4 linked regions of the Homo sapiens genome follow. The protein of the gene in region 1 purifies or fractionates together with the protein of each later gene. This does not show direct contact. Each region holds a gene or a part of one and is shown in the gene's direction. Other genes may lie near its edges. The genes, in order: MTRF1L, TTC4, PRPSAP2 and MECR.

Region 1 (5,811 bases):
GTCTCTACAAACAATGCAAAATTAGCTGGGCATGGTGGTGCGTGCCTGTGGTCCCAGCTACTTGAGAGGCTGAGGTGGGAGAATCGCTTGAACCCGGGAGGTGGAGGTTGCAGTGAGCCAAGATGGTGCCACTGCATTCCAGCCTGGGTGACAGCGCAAGACCCTGCCTCAAAAAAAAAAAAAAAAAAAAAAAATCCGTAGTACCTGACATAGAAAGGTAAAACAACCTTTTCAGCTCACACTGAAATAAGTCTTTAGATTTGGCAATTTTGTCATTGGTAACTTGAATAAAAATGGTCTTGATATGATTATAGAATCCAGTGTAACAGCTTGAGAGGTAAATTAGAGTTAACAGGAGAAAAGTTATAAAAATGGCATTTTATCTCCAGAAATCTGGGTGGGAAAAGAGGGGTGACAATAAGCAGCTACTTAAAGGGTTGAAAAGAAAAGGACCCATTTAGAATGGGAAACCATAAACATCTTTATAGGCAAAGGGGAAGGCAGGCACATGGTAGGTGTCCAGTAAACATATGTTGATTTATAATATTCAAGAGAAATTAAAGAAGTAGTATATTACCATTGCCTGTGAGTAACTCCTAATTCTAAACCCTTTAGAGCTGCACTGTCCAATATAGTAGCCAGTAGCCACACAGCTGTTGAGCAATTTGTGGCTAGTCTGAATTGAGGTGTGTAAGTGTAAAATACATATAGATTTCAAACACCTGGTATAAAAAGTAATATGTTTATGTTAATTACATGTTGAAATAATATTTGGAGCATATTGGGTTAAATAAAATATAGTATTAAAATTAAATTACTTCTAGACTCTAGTTCCAATCTCCTTAGCTTTGCAGAACTGAAAGGCACCTTAGAGATTATCCAGCTCAGAACTTTCATTTCATTCTTGTCATAACTGAAAGAAGTTGAGCCTATTGCCCTAACAGTACCTTAGCGATTAAGCTAGGGCTAGAATTCATTTTTGCTTTTCCTAACACATTTTCCATTCTACCAAATTTCTTCCATACCATATGCTTGCCAAAATAATTTTCAGCAGTGCTTCCTGTACTTGCTTATCTCAGTTTTGCTGTTGTTATTCTCTCTCCTTGAGTTAATCTTTTTTTCCTTTTTCTGCCCATTCCAAAACCAACAGATTCCTTCAAGGCACAACTGTTTTAATATTTAATCACATAGTGTATTAGTCTGTTTTCACACTGCTGATAAAGACATACCCAAGACAGGGTAATTTTTAAGAAAAAGAGGTTTAATAGACTAACAGTTCCACGTGGCTGGGGAGGCCTCCCAATCATGGTGGAAGGCAAAAGGCACGTCTTACATGGCAGCAGACAAGAGAGATAACTTGTGCAGGGGAACTCTTCTTTATAAAACCATCAGATCTTGTAAGACTTATTCACTATCATGAGAACAGCACAGGAAATATCTGCCCCCATGATTCAGTTACCTCTCACTGGGTCCCTCCCACAACAGGTGGGAATTGTGGGAGCTACAAATCAAAATGAGATTTGGGTGGGGACACAGCCAAACCATGTCACATAAGGGTTTAGGTTATTTTTTGTTTTTCTCTTCTAGAAAAATATAAGGAAACTAAAATTATCTATAATGCTCTCTTGAGGGCAGGTCTTATATATGTATTATCCCACTTCCCAGCATGGTTGTTTCTTAATAGATAAGCATACAAACTGATGCTTTGTAAGGGTTTGAACTTTCAATAGAGAGAACAATTTGTTAATAGCCAGAAATTTTCCCTTTCCTCCTCCTTTATATATGCTGCATATCATCTATAGGGTAGAGGAATGAGAAAGTATGTTTTATAAGGTAAAAATGAAAATTCAAAGATGAAACAACAATAAAGGTAAAGCCAGAGAGAGAGACAGAGGAGTACTTCGTATAAACATTCTGTATACATTAGGCAGAATCTAATAAATGTTTTTGGGTGGATACTAAAATACTAATGAAACATTTGCTTATAAGAGAATAAATTTCTACTTTTTAATTGAATTTTAGTTTTACTGGTGTAACCTTCTGTATCCCTTCTGTCTTATTAGCTAAATGCATTCGTTATTATACAGTCTAAGTTGGAAGTCTAAAAGCATATTTATTAAGGTGAATATTTCATGGAGATGAAATTATGGAAGAGTTTAGCTTCTTTATATTTTTATAGAAATTTGTACTTGTACTTTATCAGAAAAAAAATTTTATACTTACATGCTTATGAAAACTAATGTATAAAATGGTGAAATTGATTGAAAGGACATTTATTGAAAGGCATTTATTGAATGGTATTTATTGAAAGGACAAGATATACATTTTATTTTTCCCTTCAGCTATAATAACCATAAAACTATTTCCTAGAAGTCTGCTAGCAATTTAACACTAATTAAGGAAAACCTTAACTTCTGCCCTTTTTTTCCTAGATGAGAATGAAGATTTAAGGAAACTTGCAGAGAATGAAATCACTTTGTGTCAAAAAGAAATAACTCAGCTGAAGCATCAGGTATGGTATTTCTGCAAAGAATAAAGCATTTGTGCTATTCTTAGGCATTAAAGTTTATTAAAGGTTTATAAAAACAAGTGACTAGCTTGTTACTGTTTAGAATAAACTGGGTTTTTTAAATTTATTTTCTAGATTTATTGAGGTATAAATTGACCCCCAAAATTGCATATATTTAAGGTATATGATGTGATGTTTTGATATATGCATACATTTTGAAATGATTATGACTATCAATAAACTGGTTTTTAAAGAACAAACTTCACATGGTCCTGTTTTCATCATACTAAAAGTACTGTAGCGCTCTCACAGAAAGATAAATGTCACAGTGATAGTATTTTCTGGAAAGGCAGCGAAATAGTGGCATATCTTCCCTTTTTTTTTTTTTTTTTTTTTAAGAAGACTGGAGGTAGACATGGGGCAGAAGAGGTTATATGAAAGGACTTCAAAAGTTTGTGGAAAACTGGAATTAAAAGATAAAAAAATATATATATAAACTTTAATTTATTGACATAAGTGCCACCAGCTATCAAGTTCAAGACACTTTGGTAAGCAAAAAGGTGATATACCAGCATTTAATGCATCCCTAAAGAACTGAGGGTCCTGGGAATTTAACCATGTCAATGTAGTCTTTTTTATATTATTAACTAAAGAACAATGGGTACCCTTTACAAAGTTTTTAAGATCAGGAAACAAAAAAAAGGAGGAGCCAAATAAGGACTGTAACATGAGTGCCTATGGATTTCCCATTGAAGCTCTCAAAATTGCCTGTTTGATGAGAGGAATGAGCAGGAGCACTGGTGTAGGAGAGGACTCTGGTGAAGCTGTCCCTGGTATTTTGCTAAAACTCTGGCTTTCTCAAAACCCTCATAGTAAGCAGATACTGTTCTTTGGCCCCTAGAATGTCAATAAGCAAGGTGCCTTGAGAATCCCCAAAAAGACTATTGCCATGACTTTTGCCCCTAGCCAGTCTGCTTTTGCTTTGACTCGACCCCTTCCACCTCTTGGTGGCCATTGTTTTGATTGTACTTTGTCTCCAGGATCATACTGGTAAAGCCATGTTTCACTTCTGGTTATAATTCAAAGAAATGCTTTAGGATCTTGATCCAATTTGTTTAAAATTTCTATTGAAAGCTCTGCTCTTGCCTCCAGCTGATCTGCATGCAAAGGTTCTGGCACCCATCCAGTGGAAAGTTTGCTCACCTTTAATTTTTTTGTCAGAATTTTATAAGCTGAACCAGTTGAGATGTCTGTGGTTTGACTATTGTTTCTTCTGTTAATCATCAGTCTTCTTCAATTAGGGCATGAATAAGATAATTTTTTTCCTCACAAATTGATGCAGATGGTCTGCCACTGTGGACTTCTTCTTCAACATCATCTTGTCTCTACTTAAAATGAGTTATCCATTTGTAAACTGCTGATTTCTTCAGGGCATCATCCCCATAAACTTTTCATAAAGCATCAATGATTTCACCATTCTTCCACCCAAGCTTCACCAGCAATTTAATGTTTGTTCTTGCTTCAATTTAACAGAGTTCATATTGCTCTGATGGGGCTCTTTGCAAACTGATACCCTTTTTAGTACCTCAAACTAGAGCCTGTGACTTGTTATAACAAGTTAGCACGAGTTTATTTTGTTACAAAATAACTTTGAAATACAACTTCTTGAAGTCCCCTGTTAGAGTGATAGTAGACTGTGAGCTCCTCAGGGCCAGGAATACTTATTTTGCATCTCTGACACTATTTGGAATACCAGACCTAGAGTAAGCCCTCACGATTTTAAGAATTGGATTACATTGCTTTGGTTGTACATCTTTGTGAATTACAGAACATATAGAGTTAATGAAGAATAATTATATGAAATTAGAGCCACTCTTTGCTAATTCTGTAAAGCAGAGACTAAAGGTTGACAGCAATTACCGTTGGGGATAAGTGAAAGAATATGTTAGGTAAGGAAGGAGCCAGGAAAGGGGGTACTTATTTTTGAGAATCTGCTTCCCCTTTAGGCAAATGTGAAAATTACTAAAAATTAATGTTCCTATAACCTATGTTAGAGGGGGAGAATTCCACTATAAGGTGAAAAGTGTAGTATAGCTCGCATTTTACCCATTTTCTAAATTAAATTTTGTGTGAATAAGAAGGATATGTGTATTAAATGTTTCTGTTCAGTGTCTAGTAATCAACAAACAGAAGTAAAATCCATTATTTGTTCAAAATTTGAATGATAATGTTGTATTGGCATAGGCTAGAGAGATGGAAAAGTAGTAACTAGCATAGCTTCTGACCAATGTCAAGTGTGATAGCAGTGTACTCAGGTATATTCAGGTTCAATTCTAGCTCTTCCACTTAACTTTTGAGTTGGGTAATGTTGAGCCACTAGATTATTCAACCCCTGTAAAATTAGTTTCACATCTTAAGGTAGAACTGTTAATAATACTTACCCAAGATTGTTTTAAGAATTACAGTATGTACAGTGCTTAGAATGCCTGCCATATATTAAAGAACCAATAAAATGTTGGTAGCTTTTCTTATTAATTGACCTAATCTAAGAAGTGTTTGTTCTAGATCCCCTTGATTAGAAACACACTATTGTAATGGAGGGAAGACTGATCTAGGCACAAAGGTTTGTGTTCTTGTGCCTGCTTGGCCAGTAACTAACACTTTGCCCTTAAACAAGTCATTTAATCTCTGTTAAGCTCTGTTTCCTTTACATGTATAATTAAAGAATTGGACCAGATAATCTCTAAGGGCCTTTTTAGTTTCAAAATTACAAGTTTCTCTTCCATAATAAGAAATCTTAAAATAATACAAATGTAGTTTTGAGTGCTTTTGGTTTTCTGCCATACTAGGCCTTAATTTTCAAGAGGATGGATCTAGAATCTTCTTTTGCTTTCCACAACAGTATAATCTCCGAATCAGAGCAAGTACTTAGTTCTTATTAACTGAAGAGAGAACTGATACAAAGCATACAAGAACTCCAACAGACAATAAAACAAGCCTGAAATTTTAGCTGAATCTTAACAGCATTTATAATATGGTTGTAACATTAATACTTTATGGAAGTTACACATTATACAGTTCTAATTGGCAAGGTGGTTGAACAGTACTCAGCAATATTACATTATTTGCTTGGCGAAACTTAAATATTTAAAATTCCTGAATCATTTAGCTTTTTATTTTTTGATAAATTTTAAATCTTAATTATAGGAGGGGTGATATTTTTATATTTACAGATTATCTTACTTTTGGTTCCCTCAGAAGAAACAGATGAAAATGATTTGATCCTGGAAGTAACTGCAGGA
Region 2 (3,500 bases), on another chromosome or scaffold:
TTTGGGTTAAGTGTTATTTAAGCTTCACAGTGGCCTTCTGAAATAGGTTGTCTTGCTTCTGTTTTTTTGGATAATAGTTTCAGAGAGGTGAAGAAACCTTACACAGCTAACATGTGTTAGAGCCGGGTCCTTGCTCTTAACCACTGGGTTGTACAGCATCCTGAGAAAGTCTGACATTTTAGGATGTTGTTCCTATAACAACAACAACAATAACAAAATGCCACCCTGTCTTTCTCTTTTCTGTATTTTGAAATATATATAGTCTGACCCAAATCTTGCTTTAACCTTGATACCTAGGGAGTCACCTGTTTGAGATTGTTTGGTCTTAACAAAGGAGAGAATATCTGCTGGGAGATTATGGGATAGGTTTTTTTTTTTTTTGAGATGGAATGTCTCTCTGTCACCCAGGCTGGAGTGCAGTGGTGCAATCTCGGCTCACTGCAGCCTCCACTTCCTGGGTTCAAGCAATTCTGCTTCAGCCTCCCGAGTAGCTGGGACTACAGGTGCACACCACCATGCCCAGCTAATTTTTGTATTTTTAGTAGAGACGGGGTTTCACCATATTGGTCAGGCTGGTCTTGAACTCTTGACCTCAGGCGATCCACCTGCCTTGGCCTCCTATAGTGCTGGGATTATAGGCGTGAGCCACGGTGCCCAACCGGGGTAGGTTTTTTGTTTTATTATTTGTTCAGTTAAATTATGCACCATTTATGTTACTTGTTGACTGTAAGAAACTTAACACTGCTAAAACATACTCCACTATTCCCTCCCCACAACAATCTGTTTACATGTATTAACACGTTAAACAGATTAGAATACTCCAGATTTTCCATCTAATTCTCATTCACAGTGAGGGATTTGTTCGTTTTCTTAATTGTAGAATATGAGATGCCCAGACACCCAGACATTTGCATAAATCCTTTTTTTTTTTTTTTTTGGTTCTCTTCTTTAGTGTAACCCTTCATCTCAAACTTAGCATACATAAGAGTTACTCTCAACAGTACACGAAGCCATGCATGCTGTATTTTACTAATGGTTAAAGGGAGGAGTCAGCAAACTGCAGCCGTTGGAACACAGCCCTGCCTATTTGTTTATGTACTACTTATGGCTGTTTTCACACTACAGTGGCAGAGTTGAGTAGTTAATTTTGACAGAGACCATTGTCCAGAACTCTTAAAATATTTCATATCTAATGCTTTAAGAAAAAGTTTGCTAACCTCCAATTTAGGGGATATCATCAAATCTAATTTTGATTGCATGTCATTTCCCCTCATGTGCTAACCTTAGGCACCCCTGCACACTTACATAAGAGGTGACCCTACTATTTCAGACCCTTAATTTATGCCCATGTCTAGGAGACAGTCAAGATTAAGTCAATGCACACTCTTTCTAGTATTCCATGTCCCAACTAAACTGAAATATTTGACATTTCTTTTTTTTTTTTTTTATCTTTTCTGTCCTTTTGCACTTGCTGCTCGTTGGAGTGGAAGGCTCTTCCTCCCTTCTAAGTGCCCCTCCCTTCCAACTTCTCTGCTTTTCAAAGTCATTGTTCAAGGCCTAGCATATCTCAGTCACCTCCAGCCCCCAAGGCTGAATTAATTATTCCATCGTCTATGGTACTACAACTCCACTTCTTACCTTATATCATCATTATTTCCATAGCTGTCTCACCACTTGATATTGAGCAGAGGCTTGAGGGCAGGTAGCCATGTCTAGTTCTCTGTGACACAGGGTCCAGCACAAGATAGATGCCCAATGAAGGTGAGTTAAGTGGTACCTACTATGTGCCAGGCCTCAGGGATAATGAAGATGGATTGTGTGTAGAGCTGTCCCTCAGGGAGCTCCCATTGTTATGGTGTTTTTTTTTGTTTGTTTGTTTTTTGATGTATTAAAGTTAGTTGTCCATGTTCATTCAGGGTACAGATGAAGAAAATTAAATTAAAAATAAAGTTAGTCGTGCAGCCTGGGCAATATAGTGAAACTCCGTCTCTTCAAAAAATAAAAATAAATAAAAAATAAAAAAATTAGCCAGGCATTATGGTTTCTTTATTTCAGTAAAATGGGTTTGCATCCTCCCACACAATAAGATGTGCATTATGTGTGTGTGTTTCTGTCTTTAACCCAGGCTAGGAATATCAGGCTCTCAGAAGCTGCCTGTGAGGATGAAGATTCAGCCTCAGAAGGTCTAGGTGAGCTTTTCCTGGATGGACTCAGCACTGAGAACCCCCATGGAGCCAGGCTGAGTCTAGATGGCCAGGGCAGGCTGAGCTGGCCTGTGCTCTTTCTGTACCCAGAGTATGCCCAGTCGGACTTCATCTCTGCTTTTCATGAGGACTCCAGGTACTGACTTGCCCAGGAGCCCTCTGCTTTTGCTTGCATGCTGTCTCTGTTTTTGTGGCAGGAGGGACGAGTGGATTTTTGGTTGAGAAGGGAAGATAATGGTTTAGAGGGTTTCACACCATCTGGTTTGATAATAACCTCTCTATCCTGTAGCTGACTGAACCTTGACTAACTAGGTTTGCAACGACAGACAAAAGTCTCATCGTCATACTAACTGGGCTAGTACATGCAACACCACAGTATTGTGTTTGCCAAAGAGTGGTACACATCACTGGTGAAATAGGAAGTCATTTTAGGTAATACATGCATAGCAATTTAAGTGAATATTAATTAGAAAAAAAAATATAGAGGCTGGGCGCTGTGGCTTATGCCTGTAATCCCAGCACTTTGGGAGGCCGAGTCAGGCAGATTACTTGAGGCCAGGAGTTCGAGACCAGCCTGGCCAACATGGTGAAACCCAGTCTCTACTAAAAATACAAAAAATTAGCTGGGCATCTGTAATATCAGCTACTCAGGAGGCTGAGGCATGAGAATCACTTGAACCTGGGAGGTGGAGGGTGCAGTGAGCCGAGATCATGCCACTACACTCCAGCCTGGGTGACAAAGCAAGACTCTGTCTCAAAAAAAAAAAAAAATAAAAAAGAGATATATGTATGTCTTTGATAGATATGTATATATATCAGACTTAACTTGTGATTTCATAGGGTTAATGTGTAGAATGAGTCTAAGTGTAAGAGTGTAAGAAAAGTTTTTTTGTAATTTTTTTTTTTTTTTTGGAGACCAAGTCTCGCTCTGTTGCCCAGGCTGGAGTGCAGTGGCATGATTATGGTTCATCACAGCCTCCAGCCCCCAGGCTCAGGTGATCCTCCTGCCTCAGCCTCTCAAGTAGCTGGGACTACAGGTGAACATCACCACATCTGGGTAATTTTTTAATTCTTTGGTAGACACAGAGTCTCTCTATGTTGCCCAGGCTTGTCTTGAACTCCTGGGCTCGAATGTTCCTCCCACCTCGGCCTCCCAAAGTGCTGGGATTTACAGGCATGAGCCACTGCACCCTACCAGAAATGTTTTTAACCTTGAAGCTGTTTAAAGAAAATTATGTCAGCTGGGCATGGTGGCTCATGCCTGTAATCCCAACACTTTGGGAGGCCAAGACAGGA
Region 3 (5,811 bases), on another chromosome or scaffold:
ACCTTGGCCTCACAAGGTGCTGGGATTAGCGGTGTGAGTTGCTGTGCCTGGCCATACCTTTTGTTCTTAAACACACATGTTTATTGGTTGAGAGATGGCTTTAGAAGTATTTAAGATCCCTTCCAGAATGTTGATGATTAAACGTATTCTTTCTTTCTTTTCTTTCTTTCTTCCCTTTCTTTCTTCTTCTCTTTTCTTTTCTTTTCTTTATTTGAAACGGAGTCTCGCTCTGTCGCCCAGGCTGGAGTGCAGTGGCGCGATCTTGGCTCACTGCAAGCTCTGCCTCCTGGGTTCATGCCATTCTTCTGCCTCAGCCTCCCGATTAGCTGGGACTACAGGCACCTGCCACCACGCCCGGCTAATCTTTTGTATTTTTAGTGGAGACAGCGTTTCGCCATGTTGTCCAGGCTGGTCTCGAACCCCTGACCTCAGGTGATCCACCCACCTCGGCCTCCCAAAGTGCTGGGATTACAGGCGTAAGCCACTGCGTGGCCTTTTTTTTTTTTTTTTTTTTTTAATTTTTTAGATGGAGTTTTGTTCTCATTGCCCAGGTTGGAGTGCAGTGGATCTCAGCTCACTGCAACTTCTGCCTCCTGGGTTTAAGCGATTCTCCTGCCTCAGCCTCATGAGTAGCTGGGATTACAGGCATGTACCACCATGCCTGGCTTATTTTTATTTTTATTTTTTTGTATTTTTAGTAGAGATGGGGTTTCACCATGTTGGTCAGGCTGGTCTCGAACTCCTGGCCTCAAGTGATCTGCCCACCTCAGCCTCCCAAAGTGCTAGGATTACAGGCGTGAGCCACTGTGCCTGGCCGTATATAATTTTTATGGAGGTCACATGTATAAATGCATAGAAAAAGTCTTATGTTGTCCCTACCAAACTGATAAGAACCCTCACTTCTGGGGAGGACCTGGGATCGAGGCTGGTGACTTTATCCTTAACTATCATGTTTCAGGTTTTTTTTTTTTTCTGAGACGGAGTCTCGCTCTGTTGCCCAGGCTGGAGTACAGTGGTGCAATCTTGGCTCACTGCAACCTCTGCCTCCTGAGTTCAAGCGATTCTCAAGCCTCAGCCTCTAGAGTAGCTGGGACTATAGGCAGCCACCACCACGCCCAGCTCATTTTTGTATTTTTAGTAGAGACAGATTTCACCCTTTTGGCCAGGCTGGTCTTGAACTCCTGACCTTGTGATCCGCCTGCCTTGGCCTCCCAAAGTGCTGGGATTACAGGTCTGAGCCACCGCGCCCAGCCATGTTTCAGGTTTTTATAGGGAGGATGTGTTTGTGTTTTACTTGTATAATTAAAATTTGAGAATAATGAAAAAGATTAGCTTAGTTTCAGCTCATTGATGATCTACACCAGCCTTCCCAGAGGTCCCAGGTGAACATACAACTGTGGAAATGCAGTGGGCTTGCTGAGAAAGGGCCCCCCTGCCCACAGCCTGCTGGATTGTTGCTGTTCCTCCCATCTAGCATCTCCATTATGTGATGAGGACACTCAGCAATGATGACGACTTTTTTTTTTTGAGATGGAGTCTTGCTGTGTCGCCAGGCTGGAAGTGCAGTGGCACGATCTCAGCTCACTGCAACCTCTGCCTCCCAGGTTCACGTCATTCTCCTACCTCAGCCTCCCGAGTAGGTGGGACTACAGGCACGCGCCACCATGCCCAGCTATTTTTTGTATTTTTAGTAGAGACAGGGTTTCACCATGTTGGCCAGGGTGGTCTTGATCTCTTGATCTCGTGATCTGCCTGCCTTGGCTTCCCAAAGTGCTAGGATTACAGGCGTGAGCCACCACATCTGACCAGCACTGATGATTTATAAGCCAGGGACCTTTTTATTTTTGGCCCACTGCCAAAATTTGGGTGTGACCAAAACTGTCATTTGGGTGGTCGCTTAAGTGTCCTTCAAGGTGATTATCTAGTCAGCCCGTGTTCCACTTGAGGAAAATGAAGATGAGAGGTCAGTTTTAGACATGACACAGGGCAGCTGAAAGGCCGGGAAAGGTTTTATGGTAAACAAGGATTACAGGAAAAGCTGGGTGTAGATGGGTCATTTATTCTTTGTCTAAGGATTAATCAGTCCTTGTTCTCGCTAATGGCTCTGCCATTTTTCTGTGTGTTAATCCAGGAGGAATTTTGTTGTCAGAGAATAAAAGGAGGTTGTCCATAATTGACTTTAAGCAGCAATCAGTAAAACATTGAGCTCTTCAGCTCCGCCTTTCTTGTAAGTTTATCATTTCTTCTTAGTGGTTGTGAACATCATGTGATAATGTATTTCCATAAATTTAGGACCCTGAAATCCAACTGAACTTTCTGTTTGTCCATATATATCTAATATTTAAAAAATACTATTAGGATGGAAACTAATTTCCTTCAGCTGAAGTCATTTCCTTTAAAAAAAATTCATTCAGGTATATTTCATATCATATGGCAGTTTTTAATAAGTATTATATCCTTCTAGGCTCTGAAAATTGGAAAACCAAGAAGGTTTTGATGTTTTGTGTGACGCCACCTGAATTAGAAACCAAGATGAACATAACCAAAGGTGGTCTGGTGTTGTTTTCAGCAAACTCGAATTCATCATGTATGGAGCTATCAAAGAAAATTGCAGAGTGAGTTATAATTGTACCATTAAAATCTATATTCATTATGTGATGCTTTAAATTTGATAATCAGATTAGCAGTTATTGTTAAATTTGAAAGCAGATATTTTATAATTATAAAATAATTATATCTTTTTTTCATCATGTATCTTTTTTTTCATCATGCAAGATGTTCATGTAGTATGTCTCATCTGTATATATTAAGGGCTATTCTTTTTGTAAACTATCCCATCTCCCTACATATTCTTTCAGCAGACATTTATTGAGTGCCTTATAAGTGCCAGGGATTGTGTTAGATGCTATATATATATATAATTATTTGAGTATAAAGCACACTGGGGCCAGGCGCGGTGGCTCACGCCTGTAATCCCAGCACTTTGGGAGGCCAAGGCGGGTGTATCACGAGGTCAGGAGATTGAGACCATCCTAGTTAACAAGGTGAAACCCCGCGTCTACTAAAAATACAAAAAATTAGTTGGGCGTGGTGGCGGGCACCTGTAGTCCCAGCTACTTGGGAGGCTGAGGCAGGAGAATCGCTTGAACGCAGGAGGGTTGCAGTGAGCTGAGATTGCACCACTGCACTCCAGCCTGGGCAACAGAACGAGACTCTGTCTCAAAAAAAGAACATTAACATGTATATTATATGAAATAACTTATAGCTTATAGTTTAGTATAATTTTAGATATTTATTAAACAAATATTGTACCCCTACTACTGTGTACTAGACCTTGATCTAGATGTTGGGGATTATCAGTGAGTCAAGATCCATCCTTTTTATGAAATTTACATTTTAGTATGGGAGCCAAACAGAAATCAAGTCAACAAAACAAACAAGGTAATTTCAGATGATGTCAATGCTATGAAGAAAACTGTGTGAAAGTAATGATGGGGCAGGTTGTTCTGCTTTAGCATGTGTGCTGAAGTGCTTTTAAACTGAAGGGATGGTGTGTGAGTTGAGAAACCTGAATGAGCCACCAAGTGAAGGTCTGGAGGCAGAACCCCCCCAAGCAGAGGGGACAGCAGATTCCAAGCCTCTGCAGCATGCAGGAGGAGTTCTTGGTGTGTCTCAGGAACGTGGGCTGGAGTACAGAGTGTCCAAGGAAGATGGCTAGTGAGGCAGGCAGAGCGGGACTGCATAGTCCTTCCTGGGGAGACATGGGGTTGGGGTGAGGGGCTAGGTAATGGATTGATGTAACAATTTAATGTTGACTTTAAATTTTATAAGAAGAATAACTTTATTTTATTTTACTCTTATCGATTTACGAGTCTCCTTAAATAGTAAAGATACTGGGTTTCTTCTATTACTTTTTCAGCTTTTTCCCCCTTTCTCTTCTCTAGGCGGCTAGGGGTGGAGATGGGCAAAGTGCAGGTTTACCAGGAACCTAACAGAGGTGAGCTATCTTGGGCATGTGGAACATTGACCTTTTTGTGAAATGTGGCATATTGGCTCCGTCCTTCATCCTTTACTATTGAAACGATTTGATTCAGTTGTACATTTCCATTAGCAAGAAGTCAGGCAGGCAAGGTAGAACAGAGTGGTTTTTTAGCTCTCACTAATACCAGCTAGATATCTAACCCTGGTGCAAGTCATTTCTGGGGCTTGAACTGCAGTTCTGAGACTTCATTCAGTAAAAGCTGCAGACATATTTGAACCAGCTGGTCAACTGAATGAACATGAGCTCAACTGTTGCTTAAATTTATGTCACCTTAGGAAGGATGAGTAAATCCTGTCACCTTAGACAGGATGACTAAATCCTGTGTGACCGCAGTTTTAGTTAGTCTTTATTTGCACCTAAGCTGCCTTGGGTTAGACTTCATAAAATATTGTTAAGAAATACTTTTTGCTAATTGATACATGTCATTACATAATTCTCCCAAGTTGTAAAAAGAAGTGTTATTTAACCTTTGTAGGTCCAGGTGTGCTGGCTCATGCATCTAATGCCAGCACTTTGGGAGGCTGAGGCAGGCAGATTCCTTGAGCTCAGGAGTTGAGACCAGCCTGGGCAACACGGCAAAACCCTGTCTCTACTAAAAATACAAAAATTAGCCAGGAGTGGTGGTTTGCACTTGTAGTCCCAGCTACTAGGGAGGCTGAGGTGGAAGGATCGCTTGAGCCCAGGAGGTGGAGGCTGCAGTGAAGTGTGATCATACCACAGAGTGAGACCCTGTCTCAAAAATAAATAAATAAATAAATAGAAAGTGATCTTTGTAATTTCTTTAGCAATGGTGGATATTTGAAATTATTTTAGGCCAGGCGTGGTGGCTCACGCCTGTAATCCCAGCACTTTGGGAGGCCGAGGTGGGCGGATCACCTGAGGTCAGGAGTTCGTAGACCAGCCTGGCCAACATGATGAAACCCTGTCTCTACTAAAAATACAAAAATTTGCTGGGCTTGGTGGCAGGCGCCTATAATCCCAGCTCCTGGGAAGGCTGAGGCAGGAGAATCGCTTGAACCCGGGCGGTGGAGGTTGCAGTGAGCCAAGATTGTGCCATTGCACTCCAGCCTGGGGGGGAACAAGAGCGAGACTTTGTCTCAGGGGAAAAAAAAAAAAAAAGAAATTATTTTAGCAGGAGCGATGGACAGCTTGCATGGGCTTGAGAGTTACACACCTTATCCTTGACAAGTTATTTAACCTTTCTAAACTATAAATAAACTGTAAATTAGGGCTGTTTTGAGGATTAAGTGGGATAACTTGTGTGCCTACCAGTTTTTGGCACACAGTAGGTGCTCAATATATACTTATTCCTGTTCCTTTTCCACTAGAAGATTTAAAAAAACATTTTTTTTTTTTTTGGTAGAACAAGGGTCTCATTATGTTGCCCAGGCTTATCTCAAACTCTGGGCAAAAGCAGTTCTCCTATTTCAGCCCCCCAAAGTGCTAGGATTACAGGTGTGAGCCACCAGGCCTGGCCCCTCTACAGGATTTTATCAAATATTTACATATTATAAAGCCTACAGGAGGCTTTGATAAAAAGGCACAAGTTTTGCTGTTCCCATGTTTATCTCCGTTCCTGCCTCTTTTCTGTCTCCCAAGATCCCTATGTGGCGTCAGTAGGGAAAAAGTATAATTAAACTCTGCAAGGAGAGTTTGGAGAAGATTCTTCCTCTAGAGGGGATTGAATGATGTTCTTTGTCTGGAGTCTAGGAGGGAAGGTGAAAGGGAGAAGCAGTGGCATAAGACTCCAGGAGACTGGTCCACTCTCC
Region 4 (5,811 bases), on another chromosome or scaffold:
CATCTCTACTAAAAATACAAAAATTAGCCGGGCGTGGTGGCAGGTGCCTGTAATCCCAGCTATTCGGGAGGCTGAGGCAGGTGAATCGCTTGAACCCAGGAGGCAGAGGTTGCAGTGAGCCGAGATCATGCCATTGCACTCCAGCCTGGGAGACAAGAGCAAGACTTCATCTTAAAAAAAAAAAACATGTGAGTCAACCTGCTCTGGATGAGAAGAATGAGGACTGTGTAGGAAAAAGGGGGCTTTCTCAGCTTCTCCTGCCCTGGTGGTAATGTTACTACTGTCTTACCCTTAGATTGCAGCAGTTTGAGGTCATTAACTACCTGCACGGTGACATTAACTAAATCTAATGGTAACTCAGAGAAGCAGCCTCTCTGAATCGCCCTTACAATGGTATTTGGCATATTTTGTTTTGGTTTGTTTTTTGTTTTTTGGGTTTTTTTGAGACAGGTTCTTGCTGTGTCACCGAGGCTGGAGTGCAGTCACACAATCATAGCTCACTGTGTCCTTAAATTACTGGGCTCAAGCAATCTTCCCACTTCAGCCTCATGAGAAGCCGGGACTGCAGGGCATTATGCCCAGCTAATTTTTTTTTTTTTTTTTTCTGTAGAGACAAGGTCTCACTATGTTGCCCAGGCTGGTCTTGAGCTCCTGGCCTCAAGCAGTCCTCCCACCTTGCCTCCCAAAGTGCTGAGATTATAGGCATGAGCCACCACACCCCATTTTTACTACATGTTTAAGATAAGAATGACTGTCTATTTTGGGCCAGGCACAGTGGCTCATGTGTGTAATCCCAGCACTTTGGGAAGCCGATGCAGGCGAATCACCTGAGACCGGGAGTTCAAGACCAGCCTGACCAACAAGGCAAAACCCTGTCTCTACTAAAAATAAATAAATTAGCCATGTATGGTAGTGCATGCCTGTAATCCCAGCTACTCAGGGGGCTGCAGCATAAGAATCACGAACCCAGGAGGCGGAAGTTGCAGTGAGCCAAGATCGCGCCATTGCACTCCAGCCTGGGCTACAGAGCAAGACTCTGTCTCCAAAAAAAAAATTAAAAAGAATAACAATCTATTGTGCATAATTATCATGAGGACTCAGACATTCAGAGGAACGTCCAGATTTTCTTCTTTTTCTAAACATCCTGGATGCTATCCTGGATGCTTCCAGTGGATGCTACCCACTATCCTGGATGCTTCTTGGCCAAGGAGGGTGAGCTGGGGTTGAATGTGCACAGGGCTCCTTCCTTATGATCCTGGCTTCATCTTCTGACTCAGGAACCTGGCGGACCGAGGCTGTGTTCAGCGAGGAAGCACTGATCCAAGTTCCGAGTGACATCCCTCTTCAGAGCGCTGCCACCCTGGGTGTCAATCCCTGCACAGCCTACAGGATGTTGATGGACTTCGAGCAACTGCAGCCAGGTAGGAACCCACAGGTTGGGGGAGCAGGCCAGGGTCTCGCAACTAGGGTGCCACTCACATCCTGACCCCAAGGCCAGGAGAACTTGCAAGGTGGAGGTTTTGAGGGGGTGATGGACCTCTCACCTGGGTGAATGTTGTTGCTTTCACTTAGAAAGATGTTAGCTTGGTTCCTAGGAAACATGCTGAAACCTCATGAGGAGTACACTCTCGAAAACTGCTGCAGGGTCACATTCTCTAGAGCTTGGGATTGAATTCTGTCATTCAGCAAAAATGTGTTGAGCTGGGGCTAAGCTCTGGGATACAAAGGCAGACAAGATAGACACAGTCCCTATGTTTTCAATAAAATGCTGAACTTAGTGTTAATAATTCCACTCAGCGTTTACATAGCACTTTCCAGTTCACAGAAGTGCGTTGACAGGCATTATCCCCGTTGAGTGCATGAAATCTTCACAGCATTGCAGTAAGGTTGGTACCATCATTGGTTAAGAGCTCAAGCTCTGGGCAGATAACCTGGGTCTGACCCCAGGCTTCACCTTTCCCTGACTGTGAATTTGCCTCTCAAATCATCAGATTTTTCTTCTGTAAAATGGAGAATAAAGAACGTGGAGGGTGAAACACTACAGCATAATACTTCACACAGTGCTGGGCATACAGTGCAGAGACTGTCCGCTGCTTATATTCTTCTTCCCTTTCATAAATGGGAAAACTGAGGTCCAGAAAGGTAAACTATTTGCATGAGATCAGCCAGGGAGTAAATGACAGAGCCAAGTGTTTTTATTTGGGTTTCTCTGAAAGCAGAGCCTAAGACCAGCACTGGGTGCAGAGAGTTTGTTTGGGAAGAAGAAATGAAGGGGAGTGGGGAGAGTGAGACAGAGATGGAGGCAAAGCCCATGAAGCCCGGTTACTGCTGCGGGCAACTACTGCTCCGGCTGTTTTTTTGAGACAGTCGTGCTCTGTCGCCCCGGCTTGAGTGCAGTGGCGTGGGCTCACTGCAACCTCCACCTCTCGGGTTCAAGGGATTCTCCTGCCTCAGCCTCCCAGGTAGCTGAGACTACAGGTGCCTGCCACCATGCCTGGCTAATTTTTGTATTTTTAGTAGAAATGGGGTTTCACCATATTGGCCAGGCTGGTCTCTAACTCCTGACCTTGTGATCCGCCCACCTCAGCCTCCCAAAGTGCTGGGATTACAGGCGCGAGCCACCCACCCCCAGCCGGCCTGCTCAGTCTTGCTGGGGCCCTCTGAAGACTCTCAGAACCCACTGCAGAATTAACCCTTAAGGCCAGGCATGGTGTCTCATGCCTGTAATCCCAGCACTTTGGGAGGCTGAAGCTGGCAGATCACTTGAGGTCAGGGGTTTGAGACCAGCCTGGCCAACATGGTGAAAACCCGTCTCTACTAAAAATACAAAAATTAGCCCGGCGTGGTGGCAGCGCCTGTGACCCCAGCTACTCAGGAGGCTGAGGCAGGAGAATCGCTTGAACCCGGGAGGCGGAAGTTGCAGTGAGCCAAGATTGCACCACCGCACTCCAGCCTGGGCAACAGAGCAAGACACCATCTCAAAAACAAAACAAAACAAAACAAAACAAAAACTAACCCTTGAATGATGAGAGGCTGGGCCAGTTTTCCACTAATTCTCACACCCCATTGTTTAAGGGTCGCCCTAAGGGCATTAACCTCCTGGGCTGCCTCTGCACACCATGCACATCCATGCACATCCGTGAGCCGCAGTGGCTGTAGAACTCACCCAAGCCACCTCTCATACCAGCGAAGAAACTGAGGCCCACAGTTGTTGGAGTGTGATGAAACATGGTGCCCAGCCACTGTCCAAGGCCTGGCTGAAAGCCGATGCCAGTTCCCACAAGAGAAATATAGGTTTCTTGCAACTATGGCAGATGGTTCCTGGGAGCCTTTGGTGGAGAAAGCCAGTGGCTGTGACCAGGGACCTTTGCTGGAGTCCTAGTGCAGCAGACACTTTGTTTGCTTGCATCCCATGCCCTAAAGCCACCTCCCATTTAGGCTGCAGCTGTAGTAACAGATCTAGGCATTTCGACGCTGCCCACCCTAAGTACCCACTGCACACCTCTCCACTTTCCTGCCTCAAGGCTGATATGGCCTGAACTAGATCACTGTTGAATAAACTTAGGATCTTGACACATGGTAAGAATTACATTTTATATTGTGATCAGTTTATACAAATAGGAATATATATATAATGGAAACCAAAGTTTCGTGAAATACCCTTACTATGTGTGACATACTCTGTTATTTTTTATTCTCTTCTCAATTTTAACTTTAAAAAAAAAAGGTGCTTGCAACCAACTAGATTGATTCATAATCCACTGGTGGGTGACAACCTGTACGTTGACCCCTGGTGAAGACGAGTGGGCATTCTTCTTCCAGGAAGTCCTCTATCTCTAGTTTCAGCCCGTTGTGTGACAGATCCCTGCTGCCTCTCAAAAACCAGATAGCATTTCAAATTCAACAAAGCACTTTCCCGGACACGATGCATTTGACTCTAATCGGGGGCACTTTTTTTTTTTAATAGAGGGAGTCTCGCTCTGTCACCCAGGCTGGAGTACAGTGGCGCGATCTCAGCTCACTGCAACCTCCACCTCCCGGGTTCAAGCGATTCTCCTGCCTCAGCCTCCCTAGTAGCTGGGATTATATTTTAAGGGAAGGAAACTGAAGTTCACAGAGGTCATGACTTGCCCTGTCTGTTTAGTTACAATCATTGGTGAAACTGAGACTCATGCCCAGATCTGTCTCATTCCAGAGCCCACATTTTTCCCAGCATGTCACACCGCCTTCCCCAATGGCCAGGTCCAAAGCTAAACCTGGGCTTTGCCACAGAACTGTAGGACCCTGTTTCAGGGGCTGCCAGTTTCTCCAGCGCAGCTGTAATCCCATTTCAAGGCAGTGCACCTTTATTAAACACTGCAGAGAGGAATAGGGCATGACCCTTCCCTCTCAAGAAGCTGCAAGCTGTTGATAGAAATGGACCTATATACAATGAAGTGTAAGATGGGGCAGACCGTGGTATGTGCATTAATACAGATGCCCACAGAGCACTGTGGGAGCACATAGAGGGAACAATCCAGGAAGGCTTCATGAAGGCTGCACTTGAGCTGCGCTTCAAAGGATCTACAGGATTTCAATAGGAAGGAAGAGAGAAGGAGGGAAACATTGCAAACCAAGGAAATAACCTAAGTAAAGACTTGAGGACATAAAAGTTGGGAGGATGACGAAGGCTATAAAATATTTTACATAGCAGGGCAGGGTCTAAATTATATCCAGTGTAGATGCTGAGTTGCCAAGTCCTGGGAGGCATCGTGAGTGTTGTGGAAGTTTAGGAGGCATTAGGAGAACAGTGAGAAACAGTGGAAGGTCTGAGAAGACTCAGCAGCCAGGTCCTGGGTCCCTGTTGAGCCTGAGGACTCCCTTGCCTACAGAAGGATCCCCGGCTGGGAGCCTTTGACCTATTGCAGATCTATACAGGGCTTGATTTGGTTCTCTTCCTGGCTCCACAGGGGATTCTGTCATCCAGAATGCATCCAACAGCGGAGTGGGGCAAGCAGTCATCCAGATCGCCGCAGCCCTGGGCCTAAGAACCATCAATGTGGTCCGAGACAGGTGCGTGGGGAAGGAGGCTTCATCCCAGACCATGTCTTGGGTCTTTCCCACCTCCCATCCCTGCGGTGCCCAGTTGTCCACCAGAGGGCGCCCTTGCATAAGCATAAACTGGCTTTAGGCATCGCTAACAGTTGGCGGCTGAAACAGATGAGTCAGTCCTAAGAAATGAAGTCCAGCTGGCTTTTGGCGATAGGATGAGTGAATCTGACATGTAAAGAGAGGGCAGGAAGGAGGTGGAGACTGCCCTTACTGAATAGCTAAGACTTTCTGAGACTCTTGGCTTGTGATAACCTCATGTTTTCAAAACCCCAGTTGATATTTGGGAATGATTTGAGCTGTATTATTCTTTCTGTGAACTGTCTAACCCAAGGCCCCTTTACCCTTGCTTTTGTGTGGTACTTGGAAGTGCGCTAAATACAGACGTGAAGGAGACAGGGGCAGGTTTGTCATCTGTCTTTTACAGATGAGGAAACTGAAGTTTCAGGGAGCAGCTTGCCCTGGAAGACACAGCAAGTCAGTAATAGACTCGGTTTCCTCACTTACTCTCTTTCCATCATATCGTCCAGTTTCTCTAGGCCTCACTGTCCATGAATGTGGCTGTGGCTGTCATGGAAGCCCACTCTTAGTATAATCGACACCAGCTTCAGTTCCTCAGTTGTACTCGCAAAAATAATTCCATTTGCCTTAACCAAAGAGACCCAGAGCCACTCCTGGTCTAGACTGTGTATGTCCAACACTCTGAAGAACCACTTGAAAAGA

What was found.
Region 2: the proteins of MTRF1L (region 1) and TTC4 purify together in Homo sapiens (affinity purification with mass spectrometry; one large-scale study listed by BioGRID and IntAct). This does not show direct contact.
Region 3: the proteins of MTRF1L (region 1) and PRPSAP2 fractionate together in Homo sapiens (co-fractionation; one large-scale study listed by BioGRID). This does not show direct contact.
Region 4: the proteins of MTRF1L (region 1) and MECR fractionate together in Homo sapiens (co-fractionation; one large-scale study listed by BioGRID). This does not show direct contact.

What each region holds. Positions count from the first base shown.
Region 1 is NC_000006.12:152,995,251-153,001,061, reverse strand, and holds part of MTRF1L (peptide chain release factor 1-like, mitochondrial), read left to right. Parts: intron 1-2,426; exon of another isoform or gene 2,427-2,432; coding exon 2,433-2,512; coding exon of another isoform or gene 2,513-2,536; exon of another isoform or gene 2,537-2,769; intron 2,770-2,908; exon of another isoform or gene 2,909-3,057; intron 3,058-5,742; coding exon 5,743-5,811. UniProt on the Homo sapiens protein: Mitochondrial peptide chain release factor that directs the termination of translation in response to the peptide chain termination codons UAA and UAG.
Region 2 is NC_000001.11:54,729,361-54,732,860, forward strand, and holds part of TTC4 (tetratricopeptide repeat protein 4), read left to right. Parts: intron 1-2,125; coding exon 2,126-2,340; intron 2,341-3,500.
Region 3 is NC_000017.11:18,863,338-18,869,148, forward strand, and holds part of PRPSAP2 (phosphoribosyl pyrophosphate synthase-associated protein 2), read left to right. Parts: intron 1-2,131; 5' UTR 2,132-2,227; intron 2,228-2,464; coding exon of another isoform or gene 2,465-2,496; coding exon 2,497-2,615; intron 2,616-3,919; exon of another isoform or gene 3,920-3,944; coding exon 3,945-3,997; intron 3,998-5,811. UniProt on the Homo sapiens protein: Seems to play a negative regulatory role in 5-phosphoribose 1-diphosphate synthesis.
Region 4 is NC_000001.11:29,202,372-29,208,182, reverse strand, and holds part of MECR (enoyl-[acyl-carrier-protein] reductase, mitochondrial), read left to right. Parts: intron 1-1,277; coding exon 1,278-1,421; intron 1,422-4,949; coding exon 4,950-5,052; intron 5,053-5,811. UniProt on the Homo sapiens protein: Catalyzes the NADPH-dependent reduction of trans-2-enoyl thioesters in mitochondrial fatty acid synthesis (fatty acid synthesis type II).